3 separate regions of the Homo sapiens genome follow, and all the other regions are reported to be linked to region 2. The links are microRNA targets in miRTarBase. Many come from high-throughput screens and were not tested one by one. Region 2 holds a microRNA gene; each other region holds the end of a gene's coding sequence.

Region 1 (7,200 bases), not on the chromosome of region 2:
TCTTCCTAATACAGCAGAGCTGGAGTGGCTGTTCCCTCTGGGCAGAGACAGGCTGTGGCTGTGGATTCGTCTCCTCAGTCACCTACTCTTAGTGCAGGAACACTGGGGATTGTAGTTTCACTTACGTGGACATGGCATGCAATAACTATGTAAATACACGAGAATAAAACTACAGGCCAGGCGCACTGCCTCACGCCAGCGATCCCAGCACTTTGGGAGCTGAGGCAGGCGGATTGATTGAGCCCAGGAATTTGAGACCAGCCTGGGCAACATAGTGAGACCCCTTCTCTACAAAAAATAAAATTAGCCAGGCATGGTGGTGTGCAGCCTGTGATCCCAGCTACTGGGGAGGCTGAAGCACGAAGATTGCTTGAGTCCAGGAGGTGGAGGCTGCAGTGAGCTGAGATCGCACCACTGCACTCCAGCCTGGGCGACAAAATGAGACCCCATCTCAAAATAAATAAACAAAATAAAATACACTACTTAGGCAGAAGCATCCTTTCAAAGGATAAAAGTTGCCCCAGTAAGACATGTTGAGATTTTCCTTTCAAATAAAAATGTGTCACGTGATCGGGTCTGCCTCACTTATACGTGCCCTTGCTGATGGCAGATGTCGGATCTGCCTCGCTTATACGTGCCCTTGCTGATGGCAGATGTCGGATCTGCCTCGCTTATACGTGCCCTTGCTGATGGCAGATGTCGGATCTGCCTCGCTTATACGTGCCCTTGCTGATGGCAGATGTCGGATCTGCCTCGCTTATACGTGCCCTTGCTGATGGCAGATGTCGGGTCTGCCTCGCTTATACGTGCCCTTGCTGATGGCAGATGTCGGGTCTGCCTCGCTTATACGTGCCCTTGCTGATGGCAGATGTCGGGTCTGCCTCGCTTATACGTGCCCTTGCTGATGGCAGATGTCGGGTCTGCCTCACTTATACGTGCCCTTGCTGATGGCAGATGTCGGATCTGCCTCGCTTATACGTGCCCTTACTGATGGCAGATGATGTATGTACATTTCACAAGTTTCACGTTTCCCTCAGGAAACCACACTCTGACCATAAACTCACATGGACGCTTTTTTTATCAAGAGATAACGTTAACTTTGTCTTTAAAATAGAAAGTTTTGTTCATTTCATAAATATGTGTATAATTATAAATGATTTTCATATAAATATCTATTTGTATATATATTTCTATAAGTATAGTTACATACTTCATGCATATACCCCTTGTATGTAAATGTTTGTAAATTTAATGCCATTGTAATTAGGGGGGTTTTATTCTTCTTTTTTAGCCTGGAGATTTGAAAAAGAGAATTGAATCTCTGATAGACAGAGACTATATGGAGAGAGACAAAGACAATCCGAATCAGTACCACTACGTGGCCTGACGCATCTGCAGACGGTTCCCCTTCATGAAACACTAGAATGTACCCTCAGAGCAGGAAGCACACCTGTGCCATTTCTGGGACTCTGATTGATCCAGCTGTGGACATTGGAAGGCGAAGGAAGGGAGGTGGCTCCTGGGTCATCTTTCACAAGGCTCAAGACTTCAACCTGCAGATGTATCTTTTTCCCTCCAGTTTTTCCTCTAGTTCTTTTAGGCATTTAAATTGTTTCTGTTACTCTGTGCAAAATAACTTTGAGATTGGACAAGAAGATGTTACTAAAGAGAAGTTCCTTTAAAAGGTCTTGTTCTTGTGTCAAAAAGCTGCAAGTTTGGTTTGTTCTCGTGTGTGATCATGAGTGCACAATGAAGAAGACCCTAGATGCTGCATTTTTTAGCTCTGAAGATTCCTTAGGTATCCCTGAAGACAGCTCGCTCAGATGATCAGCATTTAGAGTGAAAACAAGGGCCCTTCATGGGTGAACATTAGAAAGAGCCAGGGTTCAAAGCTGGCGAATGGATGACGCACCCTAGCCACTGGCCCCTCTCTGTTTCATGTATTTCCAAAAGTTGTAAACTTTGATGGCTGATTTTTCGTAAGTCAGGTTTCTAAGTGAGCTCCCTGAGGTGCCAAGGCCATGGTGTCCGCCCTGCTGCGTCTGTTCGTCAGCTGAGTTCCTTGTGAATCTCTGTTTTAGGGTTTGGGGCTAGTGTGTTTGTGTTTCCATTCTAAGATTGAGTCTGGCAGTCCCTGTTTTTTTGCATTGGGGTAACTGCTCTTTGATTTTTTTTAATTGCAGTATTTGTGTGATTGCAATAATAAAGTTTGGTTTGGTTTTTACAGTCATGCGCAGGGACGATCCTTGTTCTCTGCTGTAAACTGTAAAAAGTTTATGGAGACTTAAAGTCTTGATGTTGTGAAGCAGAGGTTATTTTGTGGAAAGATTAAAAGGATTTTGTTGGTACCTGGTTTTGTGTTGTGTATATATACATGAGGTTGAACAGTGAAAGGAAAGTTCAGTAGTGATGTTAGAAGGGTAACTATGACAAAGATACTTTTGAGATAACATTTAAAAGTACTTTATATTTTACATAATAGCATGTTTCATTTTGATTAAAAGCTACCAAAGGAATTTTGATCATGGCATAAGTGTTTAAAGCAATATTTTCTGGAATATACCAAGTTTATATAATTTGATTTTGTGCTAAATTATTAAGAGTCTCTTTTTGAAACATGCGGGTTTGAAATATGACACCTTGTGGGTTTCCATATTAAAATCCTCACTCTTTAATTGTCATTTCTATCTTTGAAAATTTTCATTTATGAGTTCCATGATATGTGGTCTAAGAAAGACCAAACAGATTTCTATTTTTTTTTTCTTATAAGTTCGTTGTGTCTAGAGATTGTTAATATTGTAATTTAATGTAGACTTACTTTGAATAAAATTAGTTTAATTGGCCTTAAAATTACATTAATAAAACTTTGTGATATGCAAATGACACATTCTTCATAACTCTTTAGCAGCTTTGACTACTAGTGCACTAGACAGAAGTCAGAGCAGGGAGCACCTGTCCCCTCTCAAGTGATTATTCTTTCCTGGCCACCTCTACCACAAAATACCAGTGGGGCCAGGTAGTGACAAGTGGGTCTTTTTTACTTGGACGATTCGTTGTGCTGTGCCTTTGTTTCATTTGAGCACAGTGGCTCACGCCTGTAGTCCCAGCTATGGGAGGGCAAGGTGGGAGGATCGTTTGAGCCTGAGTTCCAGACCATCCTGAGCACCATAGGGAGATCCTGTTTCCATTTTAGTTTATTTATTTTTAATTGAGGTGGAGTCTTGCTCTGTTGCCCAAGCTGGAGTGCAGTGGTGCAATCTCAGCTCACTGCACCCTCCGCCTCCTGGGTTCAAGCAGTTCTCCCACCTCAGTCTCCCAAGTAGCTGGGATTACAGGCACCCGCCATCATGCCCAGCTAATATTTGTATTTTTGTAGAGACGGGGTTTCACTATGTTGGCCAGACTGGTCTTGAACTCCTAACCTCAGGTGATCTGCCCGCCTTGGCCTCCCAAAGTGCTGGGATTACAGGCGTGAGCCACCATGCCCGGCCTGCCTGTTTCTGTTTTATAAAAGAAAGGAAAATCTATTTATATCTATTCTCTTATTTAGCAATATTTAATGTTTTATTGTTAAAGGTCAGTGTGGTAAAACAAATAGTATAGAAGAAATCATTGAAAAAGAAACAGCACTTAGACAGAAATGCTGTAAAAGTGGAAAGGAGAAGGTGAAATTACTTGCAGGTTAGATGGTTGCATACCCAGGTCATCTAAGGAGCAAATGAAAATCTGTGACTGAAGAAAGAATTCACCAAGTTAACCAGACACAAAATTAACAAAAACATCAGTAGCTTTCCTATAAATATAGGCTATAATGGAGGGTCATTTTTTATTTTTATTTAGAGACAGGGTCTTAACTGTCACCTGGACTGGAGTGCAGTGGCATGATCATGTTTCACGGCAGCCTCTACCTTCTGGGCTCAAGCGATCCTCTCTTCTCAGCCACCTGAGTAGCTGGGCCTACAGGTGTACATCACCACGCCCAGATAATTTTTATTGTATTTTTTATAGAGGCAGTGTCTTGCTATGTTGCCAAGGCTGTTCTTGTACTCCTGGCCTCAAGCGAACCTCCTACCTCAGCCTCCCCAAATGCTGGGATTACAGGCATGAGACACTGCACCTGACCAGAAGTCATTTTTTCAATAGCAACCCCCAAAAAAGATAAAATACCTAGTAACAAATAGGGAAACACCTATGTGAAAGGTATTATAACATTACTAAGGAACACAGGCCCTGAATAAGTGAAAGTTCTGTTGATTCTCACATTTTGCTATACAGTATCTTAAGATGTAAAACCTTCCTTTAAAACACAAGCGGATTCTAAAGTTAAAACAGAAAAGCAAATATGCCAGACTAGTCAAATTGTTTTAAATTCTGCTGTTTTTAGAACATTGTAATTGAAACAGCATGATGCTGGCCCTTTAAAAAGATTCCTGGAACAAGAAAGTCCACAAATAAGCCAAATACACAGGAACTCGGCGTGGCACAAAGGGGCCGTGTGTGATCAGGAACTGGAACTTTGCAACAACTACCCATGCTCAGAAGTTTGGGCCACCTTGAAAAGAGAAAAGTTGGATTAGACTCCTTTTTATACTAAGGGAAGTTCCAAGTGGTCAAGTATTTACGTGTAAAAAAATACATATATATGAAACCATAATCATAAGATACTTTTTTTGTAAATTGACTATTATTGTATAAATTTATAGAGTATAAAGTGATCTTATAAATTATGCATACATTGTGGACTAGTCAAGCTAGTTACATCCATCACCTCAAATACTTAACATTTTTGTAGTGAGAACATCTGAAATTTACTCTTAGCAATTTTGAAATGTACAATACTCAATTTTTGACTGTATTCACCATGCTGTACAATAGAACTCAGAAAAAGAAAAATATAGTCCTCCTTTCTAAGATTTTTGGACCCGTTGCCCCTTTATTTGTGTTTTTCCACTAAGTGATCTAGTGAATTCACATCGATTTTTTTAAAAAAGGATTGACATTAAATGACATCTTTTAAAGTCAACATGGGGGAAAACAAGGTTAAAAAAACTGGAACCCTTGCCGGGCACCATGGCTCATCCCTGTAATCCCAGCACTTTGGGAGTCTGAGGCGGGCGGATCACGAGGTCAGGAGATCGAGACCATCCTGGCTAACACAGTGAAACCCCGTCTGTACTGAAAATACAAAAAAAAAAGCCCAACGTGGCGGCAGGCGTCTGTAGTCCCAGTTGCTGGGGAGGCTGAGGCAGGAGAATGGCGTGAACCCGGGAGGCGGAGCTTACAGTGAGCTGAGATCACGCCACTGCTCTCCAGCCTGGATGACAGAGCAAAACTCCATCTCAAAAAAAAAAAAAAACTGGAACCATCTTGGATAAAATGTACGACAAAGTACTGATGAGTTTAATGTTAACAGAACTAGAAGTCAGCAAGAAGACCAGCAACAAGCCTTCGGATAAGTGAGTTCTTCATTAGCTTTAAGAGAGTGGGAGCAGAGGAAACGGGTACCGTGAGGGCAGACCTGCTTTCAAGAACAGATGAACAGCGGCTGAGAATGACTCCAAGAGGTCGCAGGAGCAGAGCTGCATTTCAGTGGCAGGTGACTGGGCATTGTCCTGCAGCAAGGCCCTAATATCCCAGGAGAGGGCAGGATCGAGGGCACAGGGAGTGGGGGCAGGTGAGGGCTGGCCATAGGTGTGGTGCCGGGGGAGACATTGGTTGTGACGGTGACCATGGCCCTAGGCTGGAGGGTGGGGGGGTCATGTAACATGAAGATTTAGGAGGTAAGCTTGGAGGGCGCAGCTGTTGGCAATGATGGTCTGGGTGAGGACAGACGGGGAACTGGGGCCAGAGCATGGGAGACAAGACCTGATGGTCGTCCAGCAGTCAGGGACGGTGACAGGAGCCAGTGATGGAGGCCCTGAGTGCAGGACAGCCCTGAGGCCTGGAGGTGGGCCAGCCAGTGAGAAGGGCGCACCCCCGCCGGGGTGTCCAGCAGCATGGAAGGAGCATGGCCTGGAAGCAGCAATGGGCAGAAGGGAGGGCCTCGCCCCAGATGCAGCCCCAGGGGGAGGGTCACGAAGTGAGCAGCGGGCCTCTGCCCCCTCCACGGAGGCATGGGCACCCTGTGGTGGGTTTGGAAGGAGAAACCAGGCAGTGGCCAGGCCCAGGCCTTGTGCAGCAGCCCGGGAAGTTCAGGGGAAGAGGAGTGCAGGTGTTAGGACCGCCTAGTAAGAACGTTTAGGAGATGGAGGTTTTGTCAACAGACTGAATTCAGAAAGGGCTGGAGGGGGCAGAGGTGACAGTTGGGCCATGTGAGAGTGAGAGGCCCAGCAGTGATGGGGGACAGGCTGGTGGGCTCTGGTGAGGGAGGTCAGCTCGAGGGATCTGAGACATTGTGAAATGATGGTCTCTCAGGTAAATTTGTGAGGGTATATTAAATTCGAAAATGCCCACACCTTTGACCCAGTAAGTTCCTTTCACTCACGTAGAATGATTTCTAGTACTGTTCTCGCACACACAGAAAATACCTTAAATGTCCTTCAATAAGGAAACAGACCATGTGCTAAGTCCATGCATGTGTGATATTCTGACCATGCAGCTTGAACCAAGATCTAGATGTCCATTTGGAGTGAGTGTCAAGAAATACCACGTAAGAAAAGAGAGCAGTGCCGTCCTGCCACCACTGTGTGTGCGGCCCGTGTACGTGTGAATAACGACGGCTCAACTCCAGAATGGAGTTCTGGAAGGCTGCGAGCAGGTATGCGAGAATCTTTTCTATGCATATACCATTTTGTATTTTTTTAATTTTGTGTCAAAAGAATGTTTAAAAGTAATGACAAATTATTAAGAAAACAAAATGGCCCCACCCACTGTGTTGTTTCTTTACCATAAAACACAAGGAATCAGCCAACCCAAAGTAATTGCACTTCCCCGCCCGCTCTCCTCCCAACCTAATCCACTGTTGTCATCAGTTATTTTATGGGTTACCTTTGTAATTGTAATGGACATATTGAAACCCTATTCTCTCGATCCATGAATATACTCAGTTTCTCATGAAAACCTCCTGTATTGGCAGGCCAGGCACAGTGGCTCACACCTGTAATCCCAGCACTTTGGGAGGCCGAGGCGGCGGATCACGAGGTCAGAAGATCAAGACCATCCTGGCTAACACAGTGAAACCCGTCTCTACCAAACAAAAAA
Region 2 (7,200 bases):
CTTGTCCTTTGCATGAGCATGAAAAATACTAAATTTGGACTTTTTGGAGGTTTTCATTTATGAAGTAGAGTCTATATATTTGGCTCAAGTCTTGCCGGCTGCCCTATTTTCATAGTCCCAGGATCAATATGAGGTTAGTCCATTTGTCTTCTGGAAAAATGTTGTGGCTGGGCTATGTGGCTCACACCTGTAATCCCAGCACTTTGGGAGGCCAAGGTGGGTGGATCACTTGAGATTAGGAGTTCCAGACTGGCCTGGGCAATGTGGGGACACTCTGACTCTAAAAGAAATAGAAAAATTAGGCATAATGGCACATACATTGTGGTCCTAGCTGCTTGGGAGGCTGAGCTGGCAGGATTGCTTGAGGCTGGGAGGTTGAGGCTGTAGGGAGCTGTGATTGTGCCACTGTACTCCAGTCTGTGTGACAGAGTGAGGCCCTGTCTCCAAAAAAAAAAAAAAAAGAAAAAAGAAAAAAGAAAAATGTCGTGCAGTCTTGCAGAATCTTCATGTGATCTTGCTTTGAGGCTATTAGAAAGTTCTTTCATACCCTTCCTCTGTGCTTGGCTGGAAGCCTTTTCCCCTAATTTTGGCACCTCCACCTTGAGTCACCTTGCAGTAGGTGGGAAGTGTTTTCCTTTTACAGGTTGGCCACACAACTGCCTCATCTCCTGTCCTGCACGAGGGCCACCACAGCTCTCCCCTTTCCTTTCCTTTCGTTTCGTTTCCTTTCCTTTCCTTTCCTTTCCTTTCCTTTCCTTTCCTTTCCTTTCCTTTCCTTTCCTTTCCTTTCCTTTCCTTTCCTTTCCTTTCCTTTCCTTTCCTTTCCTTTCCTTTCCTTTCCTTTCCTTTCCTTTCCTTTCCTTTCCTTTCCTTTCCTTTCCTCTCTTCTCTCTTCTCTCCTCTCCTCTCTTCTCCTTTCCTCTTCTTTTCTTTTCTTTTTGAGATGGAGTCTCATTCTGTGGCCCAGGCTGGAGTGTAGTGGCACGATCTCAGCTCATTGCAACTTCTGACTCCCAGGTTCAAGTGATTCTCCTGCCTCAGCCTCCCTAGTAGCTGGATTACAGGCATGCGCCACCATGCCCGGCAAATTTTGGTATTTGTAGTAGAGACGGGGTTTCACCATGTTGGTCAGGCTGGTCTCGAACTCATGACCTCAAGTGATCCATCTGCCTCAGCTTCTCAAAGTGCTGGGATTACAGGCGTGAGTCACCGCGCCTGGCCCAGATTGTTCTATCTCCCTCTCCCCTATCACTTTCCATGAGGCAGGCAGCCCCAGGCTCATAGGCCAGCAGCTGAGATGAGAGGACATGGCCTTCTTCAATGACATCAGCAGACTGTACTAGGGAGGGTCTGACTAACTGGGTCTGGGTCACTGGCCCCTCCTTGCCAGCAGCCCTTCCTCAGGAGAAGAGCTGTCTACTGTGCAGCACAGGGCAATACCAGCCTCAGGTCCTCTCTGTCCAAGGATTTAGTTGGCTTCAGGGAAGGCCCTTGTAATGACCTGAAGATGGAAATGAAGAGGTCAACTTCACCAGCACCAGCCACCTGTCCAGAATGTCTCAGCTTGTGTTTCTTCCTTTAAGATTCAGAAGGGTAAAAGGGAGCCACCAAACCTCATTTGGAGGGTCTGTCATTCTTTGCTGTTACTAGCCACTTCTCTGGAACACTTGTGTCCCTGTATTAGTTAGATGCTTGCAGTTTAAGGGGACTATGGCGTAATCCCATTGCTTTAGGTGATGGAGGATTATTGGAAGGACACCCTGGGAGGTGGGGAAGAACAGTAAATCTTCTCAGCAGTCACAGCTGGGCTTCACCGAGAACTGGAGTATCGTCCATGGCCATATAGGATTTGACAGGAGTTTGTGTAATCTAGTAAATAAAACCCCATGTTCCATAATCAAACTGCTGGGTTCACATTGCAACTCTGCCCTTTACCACTGTGTCACCTCTCTAGCCTCAGTTTCCTACCATCTATACAGTGGTGACAATAATAGCACTGACCATGTGGGGTTCCTTGTCAAGTTTCGGTGAGATCCTGTGCACAAGGACCTAACAGTGCCAGGCAAAAAGTTATGCTCAATGAGTATTGTTGTCAACTGTGGCTCCATGGACACTGTTATTATGAATACTTGTTATTAACAGGGGCTTTGCCCCACAAATGTAAGTCCATTTTTGTCCACTCTCGTGTTGGGGAGTTGGAGTGCTGGCTACTCTTTTCTGTTCTGTCACATGTACCATTACTCTTTGACGACAGCTCCCCATGTCTCAGTCAGATGTCCCAATAGAAGATCTGATTGGCTCTGCCAGGTGTTATCTAGTTTTGGGCAGCCCTACTGGGCATGTGGGGCCCTAATGTTCACACTGGGCCACCTTTTTGGCCTGTTTGCAGCCTATGAATTACCCCCTTGTTTGGTGGATTATGGCCAGAACAGTCTATAACTGAGAATCCCCTCAGACTCTGGGCAGAAAGGCATCTTGCAGAGCCGTTCCAATGCGACACCTCTAGAGTGTCATCCCCTAGAATGTCACCTTGGAAAGACTCTGCAAGATGCCTTGTTAACCATCATGGACCCTGTTAACCATTGTGGGCTAGCATGGTTCTACAAAGACACCTGTGCTCTGCTAGTGAGGGCCCTAACCCATCTCACCCCCTATGGATCCCTCCCTGATTCTGCTGGGATTCCTGCTCACTTTTCCTCTCACATGTTCCCAGCCTCGAGCAAAAATGAGGTATCTGTATTGGAAGCTAGAAATGCTGAGTTTTGAAGCAAATTCTTTGGGTAGGGGGTCCCCTCATAGCAATGCCTCTGGAGTAAGGGGATAAAGACAGAAGGATGACTGACAGGTTTCCTAGGGAGCCCCAGTTCTCTTAACTGAGTGTCTTTCCCCAAGATGGCCTCTCCCTCACGGGGGTAAACGGGGTGCCTGGCGTGGCTGGAGAAGTCTGCTGGTTCTCCCACTGACTAGTGAAGGAGCAGAGAGGGCAGCTCTGCACAGGTTTCTGGACTGGCCTCTTGGAGACCCTTTCGGGGGCTGCCTCTGGAAGATTCACTCCTAGGCTCTCAGAAGATCTGAGGTAGGCTGTTAGCTGAAGCTCCAGAATCCCCTTTCTTTTATTTCTTCAGCAAAGTCCCAGCCTGTTGACCTTTGGGTCCCAGTGCTGAGCCCAGCTCTAGATTTATCTACCCCTCTGGGGCCAAATGCCTGACTTGTTAGCCATGCCGAATGGTTTTATTTGTTTCTGTTGTGCATTTTTATCATTTTTGTTCATGTGCCTGGAGGCTTTCCTTAGAAAATGATGGATGCGTTTTCATAAATCAAAACATAAATGAGAAAGTATATAAAGGCAAAAAATAGACCCAAGTCTGGAATTTGCCACTAGGAGCTGCTAGCTATTTCCCAGGGAGAATGCCCTTTTTGATTTTACAATGTCAGATCCTGACTTATTTCACAGAGTACAATTTTCAGAGCACTTCCTAATACTACTGGCCACAGTAATAATGATGACAATCCCAACCGTGCCTGGTATGGTGCTGAATGCTTTTGATACATTATCACACTTAATTCTTAAAACAGTCTGAGGAGCCAGGTTCTTTCACTATCCCCATTGTAAAGATGAGTAAAGAGAGGTCCAAATGATTTTGTTACTTAACCAAGTTCCCATCTTTGGTAAAAAGTGGGATTAAAATGCAGGTTTCTCATGTTCTCGACGGACAGATACCTTGGACTCCCTTTTCATTGCTTGCCGGAGGTGTGTAAGGGTGGTGGGTTGTAGCTTCTCCTGCCAGCTCTGCTGGAAAGCAGGTGGCTGGGAGTGGTAGGGGCAGCTTTTAGTTGGAGGGGCTCATAGAGAGAGTCTGTTCTCATCAGCTCTGTTCACAGAGTGCCCCTGAGCAGAACACCAGCTTTGCTGGGTGGCACATTAGCGCAGTGCCTAATGCCACGACGCCTTAGACAATGTCACTGTCACCACTAGCAGGAACCTGCCCCCTCCACTCTGCAACTTTCCTGTTTCATCACCCTTGAGCTATGAGGGTGTCCTCTAGCTATGAGCCAGAGGGTGTCCTCTAGGACCTAGCCACAGGGTAGGAGTCTGATACAAACCAGAAGACAACTGGTGAGAATTCCACGTATTTCCTTTATTAGTCACAAATCCACTGGTTGTACGTGGTAGAATTATCACTGGGACCAGCTTAAGAAGAAAGGAGGGCTGGGTGTTTATTGGTTCATGTGATCAGAGCATAAAATGCTTTTTTTTTTTTTTTTTTTTCCTGTTGGGGAAAATCCTAGTTTCCCTGTTCAGTCTCATGCCAATCCTTGGGCCAATCAGAGGGAGGGGGAAACTGTCCAGTTCAGTTCATGAGCCCTTTTCTCTGGCAGAAGGATGGGTAACTATGATTTTTTTTGTGCTAGAACTGCAAAATCAGAGTTAGGGGGCAAGATGCCCACGAAAGAGGAGGCTGCTCTTCTTGTAGACAGTTTGGTAAATGTCTAGGACATTTTCTATTGCTTTTCTTCTATACCTCCCTTCTTTGTCTGGGATATCATACACCTGGCCTGAGTCAAGGTGCTGACATAAGTCTCTGGTGAACTGCTGAACAGTTCCACTCCTTGTTCTTTCCAGGGTGCCCCATCCCATCTTAGGGCATCTAGGCTCAGATCCTGTCCTTTGCTCAGGCTTGGAGACCTCAAGTGATGTCACTAGGAACTATCCAGGATTGTAGAGGGGCTTTCAGCCCACAGAGTTTCTAACTGGCCACATTTGGAATTTTCCATTTAGCAGGACTTTCCCTCTGTGAACATCTGGTAGGATCCAAATCCTATCCCAATTCTGTGTTCTTTTTCAGACTTTCTGAACACTAAAAACATCTGTAGTTTTGCGAAAGGTTCTTTCACAATTTTATGATTGTAAATAGGCTAATTAGCCCAATCACTTGTTATTTTGTCATCTGCGTGGCACCACCTGGCCCTGGAGTATGTATCTCTCTGAGTACTAGGCAACGAGCAGAGCAGATGACCACCCTGACGAGACTTTGAATTAGGAATCTCATGACCCTGCCTTGGAACTCTGGCAGGGAAGTCCTCTCCTTCTTGATAGGAAAGGATGAAGGTTTGGGCACTTTCTAAAACAAATTTTTATTATTATTATTTTTAAAGCATGAATGCAGTTCCCCACTACCACAAATTATGCAGTCAGGTTTCCCACATTTGGGGAAATTGCAGGGGGTCAGCACATCCAGTGTGAAATGGATAAGCCTCATCCTCGGAAAACCACCTTTGCGGTCATGGTATCTCCCCTGCCAGTAAGTATATCTGAGAAAAATATTTTTAACAACAACTTAAAAAAGAAAACAAAACAAATTTCTGGTAACTACCATGTAACTCCATGGTAAATGATTCTCTCTCTGCTTCCTACCAGGTGACCCCAGTACCCAATGGTCTATCAGGTACTCGGTTCTGCCCAAGAAGCAATTCGGAGCTTTGCTAGGTTCCTTCTTGTAGTGTTCCAATCTGTCTTTCGCACTTGATCTTGTCTCTTCGGAGATGTCATAAACTCTCTAAGGACGGGAAGCCTATCTCCTATTTCTCTTTGTTAGGCATATGGTAGGCATTGATAAGTCTTCCTTGGCTAGGGAGCTATAATTGTAAGAGTGTGTGTGTGTGTGTGTGTGTGTGTGTGTGTGTGTGTGTTTTGGGGGGGGGACAGGGTTGGCAACTACAAGCAAATACTCTGAGATCCCTCTAGCCCTGATCTATTGGGAATACCTAAATCATATGTATGCAAGTTTTAATTCTTGGGTGAGGGGCTGTTTCCTAACTCTGCTGATTTCTAACTGCCCCTTTCCTGTAATTGCTGGGTCAATGCAAGTTCTCAGCTGCGCATTGGAAATGCCACTGCTTTCCATCACAGTGATGAATTTACATGGGAAAAACCTGAGGCCAAAGAGTTCTGGCTCTTACTCAGAGCCTTCCTACCAGTCACCTCCCAAAGTAAAAGAATAGTAACATACCTGACCTGTTCTTCTGGCTTCTCTAAAGCCAAATTCCAGCCTTGGTTAGGTTTCTGTTCATTTGGAAAATATCTGTATGAAATGTAGGTGCATGTCATGGAGGGGGCAGTGGGGAGTGAGTGAAGTGAGTCAGAAGGGAAGAGGAGAGCTCTCTCCCCCTGACCCTGCCGCCGCCTGCTTTCTTCCAGTGAGTCTAGATGGATTTTTGGGATCTGATGTGGCTGCATAAAGACGTGTCTCTGAAAAAGCAAAATGTCAGTGTTTTGAGGCCTTTCCGTTGGGGAGGGAGGGAACACGGTGGTCACTGGTTGTTCTCCTTAGGCCAGACAGGAGGAAAGGGAAGTATGTGTGAGTCTCTGATAATTCTCTTCTTTTTCTTTCCCTCACTTTTGTTCTTCAATAAATCACTCAGGACAATCTGCTTCTTCTTAGTGGTGTGTTTTCCTAGGGTTCAGCCTTTGTTTGAAATTCTAGAACAACAGAGTTGCAGTAAATATGGTCAACCTACGTGTAATTATGCTGGTATGTCAACTTTGCCCCGCAGAGTTGGGTCTGCTCTGGTTAAACAGAGGCCCCCCTGACTCAGAAACAAGACCTCCTGCAGGACCCTGTGGAGGGCCGACCCCAATCCCTGTGTCTGAAGGGGGTAAGACAGCCCATAATTACGCTCATTGTTTAGGTCGGAGCACAGGAGGGTTTACATTAAAGACCTCAGCTGGCACACACAGCATGCCTATGGAAAAAATGAACCGCTCTCCTCCGCCCGCTTCCCGGTCCCAGCGTTGCCTGTCCAAGGGCTTTGGGTTTCACAGACGCCTTCTGTGACTCCACGTTCTGACCACTCCTGATTAGAAGCTTGGCTTCCCCCAGTTCTAAGAGATGTCTCAATCCAGAGGTTTGGAAATTGAGCCTTTCAAGAATCACAGCGTGTAGGTCTTGGGAAGGACCTAGAGATGATGCTGTAAGTTGGTGTCTCTTAAACTTTCATGCTCACAGGAATCACTTGGAGTTCTTGTCAAAATGCAGATCTAAATGTGGTAGTCTTGAGGTGGGGCTGGAAAGTCTGCATTTCCAGAAAGCACCCTGGTAATGCCCTGTGCTGGTCATTGGACCCCACTTGGAGCATCAAGATTCTAAGCTAAGCCTTTCATTTCACAAAGAATAAAAGGGAAACCCGGAGACCTGGAAG
Region 3 (7,165 bases), not on the chromosome of region 2:
ATATGTTATCATTTATTCTTCACAACAGCTCTCTCAGGCACTTTTAATGATCCCTTTATTACAGAAGAGGTAGTGGATGCTCCTAAAAGTTAGTGGCAGGGTTGGGGTTTGAACCCCGGTCTGACTGATGCTAAAACCCTCCTTCTTCCTATGAACAAATAGTTTAATTCCCATCCTAGAAAGGTTAATTTCGAATCTGCAGAGTTTTTCTCCTCAATCCAATAAATGAGCCTAATTTATGCTAAAGAATTTCAAATATTAAGATGCCAACTATCCAAACTTGTCAGCAAACCCATCTGACAATCACAACAAGGATGATAATGACAAATATGGCTTTGTATATGCCAGCCACTGTTCCACTTTATGTGGATGATCTCAGTTGTGTCACACAACCGTTCTATGAAGTAGGTGTTGTGGTACTGATTGGTGGAGGTTCTGCATGGTAGGGATGAGATATAAACTGAGACAGTCAGTCTGACTTATAGGGCCATACCTTTTCACTCTTCTGTACAGCTGTCAGATTAAGTAGAACAAAGCAAGATGCCTCAAAACTAACTACCAGTGGCTGGGCATGGCGGCTCACGCCTGTAATCCCAGCACTTTGGGAGGCCGAGGTGGGTGGATCACCTGAGGTCAGGAGTTCGAGACCAGCCTGGCAAACATGGTGAAACCCCGTCTCTACTAAAAAAATACAAAAATTAGCTGGGCGTGACGGTGGGTGCCTGTAATCCCAGCTACTCAGGAGGCAGAGGCAGGAGAATTGCCTGGACCTGGGAGGTGGAGGCTGCAGTGAGCACAGATCGCACCATTGCACTCCAGCTTGGGCGACAAGAGAAAAACTCTGTCTCAAAACAAACAAACAACGAAAAACTAACTACCAGCATATTTTACTTCACTCATTTGGTGGAAGACAAAATACTTGTTACAAAGCTGTGTTCCCATGTTAACTAGCAAATAAAGGGAGCAACGGTGAGTACAATTGGCAGTGGTGAGGACGGTGATGAACTGATACAAGGTCTAACAGTCACGTAATGTTAATATGTCAAAGAGAAGTGATAAAGATACCAACGGAGTTGGCTCCTCAAATAATGGATTCAGGGCTGTATAACCCACTGTATCGTAATGAAAATAAGAGGAATTTTGTGTTTGTAGCAAGGTTGTGATGGTGAAGTCAAGCAGAAGCTACCACCATGGCCTTTCCTGGTCCTTAGAAGGAATGAAGTGATTCCACCCTCTCCCTAAGACAGACTCCATCACTGTGGATTATCAGCTGGCCTGCTCCACCAAGGGAAACTTGACTCCAAGCCTCTCTGGATTAGCAGCCATTTTCTAGTGCAAGAGTGAATCAAAGTAGAAACGAAAATTCAATCTGATACTAATCTCTCTAGGCAATATCTTTTTTGGGTTTTCTTTTAGGTGGCAGGAATAGTGGCATATTTCTGAATTCTGTGTTAACCTTTCATTGTTCAAACCACTGTTTAGTATCGTATAGTTTCTTCTCGGTTATGTAAGTTTAAAAATGTACGAAATCTCTCTCTTGCCCTACAAAGTGTGGCAGGATAGGGTAGTGGTTATACGGACTCTGGAGCCAGACCACCCAAGTCAGAATTCAGCTCTGACACTTAGCAGCTGTGTGACTTTGGGAAAGTTGCAACCTCTTGATGTACCTCAGTTTCCTCATGTGCAAATGAAAATATTATGGGGTTCTACCTTTGGGGGTTGTTGTAAGTTGGTGCAAATAAAGCACTTAGAACAGAGCATGGCACATGGTAAGCATGCCAATACATGTTATTGGCAACTATTGAGTTTACCTTGTAGTTCACTGTTCATAACTTAGGCAGCAATCCTGAGCTAAACTTAAACAAAATTAGGGCTTAATCCCCATGTTAATTATGGGGCTGGTGTATGTGTGTTATGGGACTGTGGGGCCTGTCAAGATAGTCCTTCTAAGGTAAAGGGTAAGTTGCTGCATTTGGCCCCTCCTACAACCAAGAAAGAGGCACAATGCCTAGTGGGCCTATTTGGCTTTTGGAGGCAACACATTCCTCATTTGGGTATATTAGTCCTGCCCAATTATCAAGTGACCTGAAAGGCTGCCAGTTTTGAGTGGGGTCCAGAACAGAAGGCTCTGCAACAGGTCCAGGCTGCTGTACGAGCTGCTCTGCCACTTGGGCCATATGACCCAGCAGATCCAATCGTGCTTGAGGTGTCAGTGGCAGATAGGGATGCTGTTTGGAGCCTTCGGCAGACCCCCATAGGTGAATCACAGTGGAGGCCTCCAGGATTTTGGAGCAAGACCCTGCCATCTTCTGCAGATAACTACTCTCCTTTTGAGAGACAGCTCTTGGATTGCTACTGGGCTTTGGTGGAAACTGAACATTTGACTATGGGTCATCAAGTCACCATGCCACCTGAATTGCCTATCATGAACTGGGTGCTTTCTGACCCATCTAGCCATAAAGTGGGTCATGCACAGCAGCATTCCATCATCAAATGAAAGTGGTATATACGTGATCGGGCTCGAGCAGGTCTTGAAGGCCAAGTAAGTTACATGAGGAAGTGGCTCAAACGCCCATGGTCTCTACTCCTGCCACCCTGCTTTCTCTTCCCTAGCCTGCACCAATGGCCGCATAAGGAGTTCTCTATGATGAATTGACAGAGGAGAGAAGACTAGGGCCTGGTTCACAGATGGTTCTTCATGATATGCAGGCATCACCCAAAGTGGACAGCTGCAGCACTACAGCCCCTTTCCAAGACATCCCTGAAGGACAGTGCTGAAGGGAAATATTTCCAGTGGGCAGAACTTCAATCAGTGCACCTGGTTGTGTGATTATATACTGATACGTGGGCTGTAGCCAATGGTTTGGCTGGGTGGTCAGGGACCTGGAAGAAGCATGATTGGAAAATTGGTGACAAAGAAATCTGGGGAAGAGGTATGTGGATGGGCCTGAGTGGCCAAAAACTGTGAAGATATTTGTATCCCATGTGAGTGCTCACCAATGGGTGACCTCAGCAGAGGAGGATTTTAATAATCAACTGGCTAGTATGACCCATTCTGTGGACACCACTCAGCCTCCTTCTCCAGTCACTCCTGTCATCGCTCAATGGGCCCATCAACAAAGTGGCCATGGTGGCAGGGTTGGAGGTTACACATGGGCTCAGCAACATGGACTTCCACTCACCAAGGCTGACCTGGCTACAGCCAGTGTTGAGTGCCCAATTTGCCAGCAGCAGAGACCAACACTGAGCCCTCGATATGGCACCATTCCTTGGGGTGATCAGGCAGCTAGCTACCTGGTGGCAGGTTGATTATATTGGACCTCTTCCATCATGGAAAAGGCAGAAGTTTGTCCTCACTGGAATAGACAATTACTCCAGATATGGGTTTGCCTATTTTGTATGCAATGCTTCTGCCAAGACTACCATCCGTGGACTCACAGAATGCCTTATCCACAATCATGCTATTCCACACAGCATTGCCTCTGTCCAAGGCACTCACTTTATGGCTAAAGAAGTGTAGCAGTGGGCTCATGCTCATGGAATTCACCATCATCCTGAAGCAGCTGAATTGATAGAAAGGTGGAATGGCCTTTTGAAGTCACAATTACAATGCCAACTAGGTGACAATACTTTGCAGGGATGGGACAAAATTCTTTAGAAGGCCGTGTATGCTCTGAATCAGTGTCCAATGTATGGTACTGTTTCTCCCATGGCCAGGATTCAAGGGTCCAGGAATCAGGGGGTGGAAGTGGAAGTGGCACCACTCACCATCACCCTAAGTGATCCACTAGCAAAATTTTTGCTTCCTGTTCCCGCGACATTCTGTTGTGCTGGCCTAGAGGTCTTAGTTCCAGAGGGAGGAATGCTGTGGATATGGGTACAGCCGGGCGCGAGATTTACACCCTCTCCCCCGCACTTTCAAGGGCCCTCCAGAGCTCACCAGATGCCGCTGGAAGCGCGACGCTTTCCAAGGCGCGGACCCCTCTCTCCAGGCGAACCCAATTCCAGGGCGCCCTGCCCTTCACAAGGAGAAAAGAACTCTCCCCGGGGCTTCCATTGGCTTCTCTGGGATCCTTCGCATTACTGTGCTGGACGCTTGGCAGTGTCCATCTCCGCCACTCCGGATTCGGGATCTGAACCGGACTCCCTTTCGATTGGCTGAGGGCAACAGAGGCCATCGCCTGTCCATTCAGAATGGCGCTCACCTATTTCTCAGGACCGAATGACCCATGTCCAACTGCTGTTCACATGGAACCCTTCTCCACTTCGGCCTTTGAAGTTCTCTTTAGAATATGTGCTACTACCACCAACATCTGCACCTGCGGCGGCTCTGCCCGGGCCCAGCCCTGGGCTTCAAGACTCACCGCAGCGGCCCTCCTACTAGACGCATAGCGTCCACGGGGCTGGCGGGCGGGGGGGTGGTGACCTCCACACATACACTGCTTCTGTTCACTCTGGACTGCTGGCGATGGCCTGGTACAGGCCCAACAATCCAGTGCCATCCATTTTCAGGGGAACCCTGACTAATACAGGGATCATTCAATAAAAAGACTCCAACTCTTAGAAATCAATTTAGTCACTATTTATTATATTGACATATTTACAAAATAATACAAAGTGAAATACCACTCTAATTCACCGTATTACACGAGGGCTGCATACAGGCAAGACAAAGTATATGGAAAACATTTACTTCTGTCTTTGGTATTAGAACTCTACACAAATCTGCAGCATTTAAATTTTCCAAAACAAAGTATTAAACGTGGACAAAGATGTAATTGGTAATGTCACAAAAAGGGGCTCCAATATCCTCTGCTAGGAAACCCCCAGGCCCATGAAATGCAACAGGAAGACTAAACACCATTTATAAGGAGAGGGTCTATTGACTAAAATAAACAATACATGCTACAATACCATCCACAGGAGTGTTTCTGCTTGTGTGAGGCTGCTCCCTCCATAACAAAGTTCGGCTGACGGCAACAGACAAAACATTCCCGAGACAGAGTCGCAGATAAGACTTTACAGGAAAGAATCCATTCCAAGAGTACACTTTGAGGTGTAACTTTATTGTACAGAACATTTTATAAAATACATTTTTGTGATCATTTACACATATACAAAGACTTAAATGGTTTTAGCAAATAATAATTTTTCTAAAACACAATCACAGTTTACATAATTCTGAGGTAAAGGTCTTGAATCTATCCTAGATGAAAAGTCCTAGCCCATGAGGGTCTCTAACAGGGGGATGTGTCCACTGAACCTTGAGTTCTGGCACCCAGACGGATTGATGAGAGGGCAGGCTACACCTGCTTCATTTCAGAGATGATTCAAAATTTCAGAACTTAATGCTCCTGGTTCAGTTCTACTAAGTTAATGCTTCTTTTTTTTCCCAACATGTAACTCTCTCAGTCTTGTCAGAACACAACTTCTGCTATGGAGGAAATATTTCCATCAGGAAAGGGCCAAGTTAGTGTCTTAACTTGACTGCCTTGAATGGGGACTCTGGACCCCAGGAAGAATGTATTTAGGCTCCTCACAAAAAAGAGTGATGGCTGGGCAAAACAAATGTACTGCAAGACCCATCTTCCCTCCAGTTAATACACTCCCAGGATGGGCTGCAGAGGGGGAGACTCTGAGAGAAGCTGGAGGCCCACAAAAGTCCACTGACCCTCTTTCTGTCCCAGAAATGAATAAAGGACCCAGTTGTGCTTTCCTTCCAAAATCCTCAACAAAGTTGTTTGTGCTCCAAGAAAATGTGGGAATAAAAAAATCATGTCCCAGGTCATCTTTGTGTGTGTGCGGGGGAGGTGGATGGGAGGAAAAGGCATGTATTAATAGATACTGCTGCTATAAAATGACATAAATTATAGCCCTTGATCTGTTTCTGTAAACAATGCCAGCTTCTTCAGGTTATTGGCAACTACCCTTAATATACCTAGCCCAGATCCTTTCATAAAGTCAAGTGCTATATTTCCAAAATAATCCTATGAAATCATGAAGGTTGTGAAGGTTTAATATGAAGACACCCTCTCTTTTGTGTGCTTTTTTCACCTTTTATAAAGAAGTTTGCAAATATAATCAGGACACCAAATAAGTAATTAAAACCCTTCAGGGATAGCTCACTTATGATGCAAACCTGAGCACTGGCCTCATATTTTATAATATCATGAGTAACATCTGAGGGTAAAAGTGTTTGCCGGGCAATGAGTCACCTTGTTGGACAATTTAAGACAAGTAAGGCTGGATCTTTCCAGTAAGCTGCTCAAATGGCAGAACTCCAATTTTTCGTCATGCTGGGAAAAGGAAAATTACACTTCTGCTTCTTTGTACCATCAAATAATCTGGTGAATGGCATGTGAGAATAAAGCAAAAGTGTATTAAGATTTACTGATGACTGGCATTCATGGTATCTGACCAGAAGAAGTAAAGGGAAGCACGAACCAATGTGTTTGCAGGGCTCTTCTGGGAAGAACAGCTCTTGGTTTTGCCCTGGTCCCTGACAATGACAGACTGGCAGGCTGTTTCTTGCACAGCTCTAGGCAAGCCATTAATCTGTCAGTACCAGCATCTTTAGAAATCTCAGCATTAAGACTTAGGAGGGGCTAAGGAGGGAGGATGTTGAACAGCCAGAAATGCAGCTTTTTAAACACTTCAGTTAATTCACGATGCTGTGCAGGCTTCTATTTATCCCTTCTCTGAAATTTTTGGTGCAGGGTGCAACACGGGATTTGAATTTATTCATCCTCTTCCACATATGTGGATGGAAACCAGCCCACCTAAAAAAGAAAAGCAACCAACACAGCAACATGACTTTGTATCTGACACTTCAAAGGATTCTACAAACAGAGTATTTTGTTTTCATAACACCCCAATTAAACTGGGGTTTTATGTCCATTGTAGGTGAGAAGATTGGTTTAACTGCTCTTAGAAGCCTAATAGAGTAAATGATCGAAATGGAGGAATAAAATAAACAGTGTTCTAATCCACTAGCACACAAATAAATATGTAAATTAAGTATAATACAGGGGGGCTCTGCTGCATAATGATTCCTATTTCTGCTGTAGAACAGGATGAAAAGACAGAGGTACTATGTCCCATTCTTTCCAATTTACATCAGCAGTTCTTATAGATATTTTGCAATACACATAAAGTTTAGCTCTAT

Evidence for each region. The annotated mature microRNA hsa-miR-4432 reads AAAGACUCUGCAAGAUGCCU and lies in region 2 at 2,535-2,554, shown strand. An mRNA with a match to its seed (bases 2 to 7 or 8) in the 3' UTR can be bound and repressed. Matches are read on the target gene's strand: a 7mer-m8 pairs with bases 2 to 8, a 7mer-A1 pairs with bases 2 to 7 and ends in A, and an 8mer does both.
Region 1: the mRNA of CUL4A is a reported target of hsa-miR-4432. Seed matches in the 3' UTR shown: 7mer-m8 at 3,217-3,223.
Region 3: miRTarBase lists VAV3 as a target of hsa-miR-4432. Seed matches in the 3' UTR shown: 7mer-A1 at 6,590-6,596 and 7mer-A1 at 5,013-5,019.

The regions. Positions count from the first base shown.
Region 1 is chr13:113,262,196-113,269,395 of GRCh38, forward strand. It overlaps CUL4A (cullin 4A), which reads left to right. Exons shown (of 20, transcript NM_001008895.4): 20 at 1,292-4,913. The coding sequence ends at 1,387. It overlaps MIR8075 (microRNA 8075), which reads left to right and starts at 725; the gene lies at 725-804.
Region 2 is chr2:60,382,716-60,389,915 of GRCh38, reverse strand. MIR4432 (microRNA 4432) reads left to right here and starts at 2,471; the gene lies at 2,471-2,554. All of the region lies in intron 1 of MIR4432HG (MIR4432 host gene), which reads left to right. It also overlaps the pseudogene RNU1-32P.
Region 3 is chr1:107,566,594-107,573,758 of GRCh38, forward strand. It overlaps VAV3 (vav guanine nucleotide exchange factor 3), which reads right to left. Exons shown (of 27, transcript NM_006113.5): 27 at 4,568-6,779. The coding sequence ends at 6,738. Among named protein-coding and RNA genes, the nearest start is that of MIR7852, 330 kb to the right of the region's middle.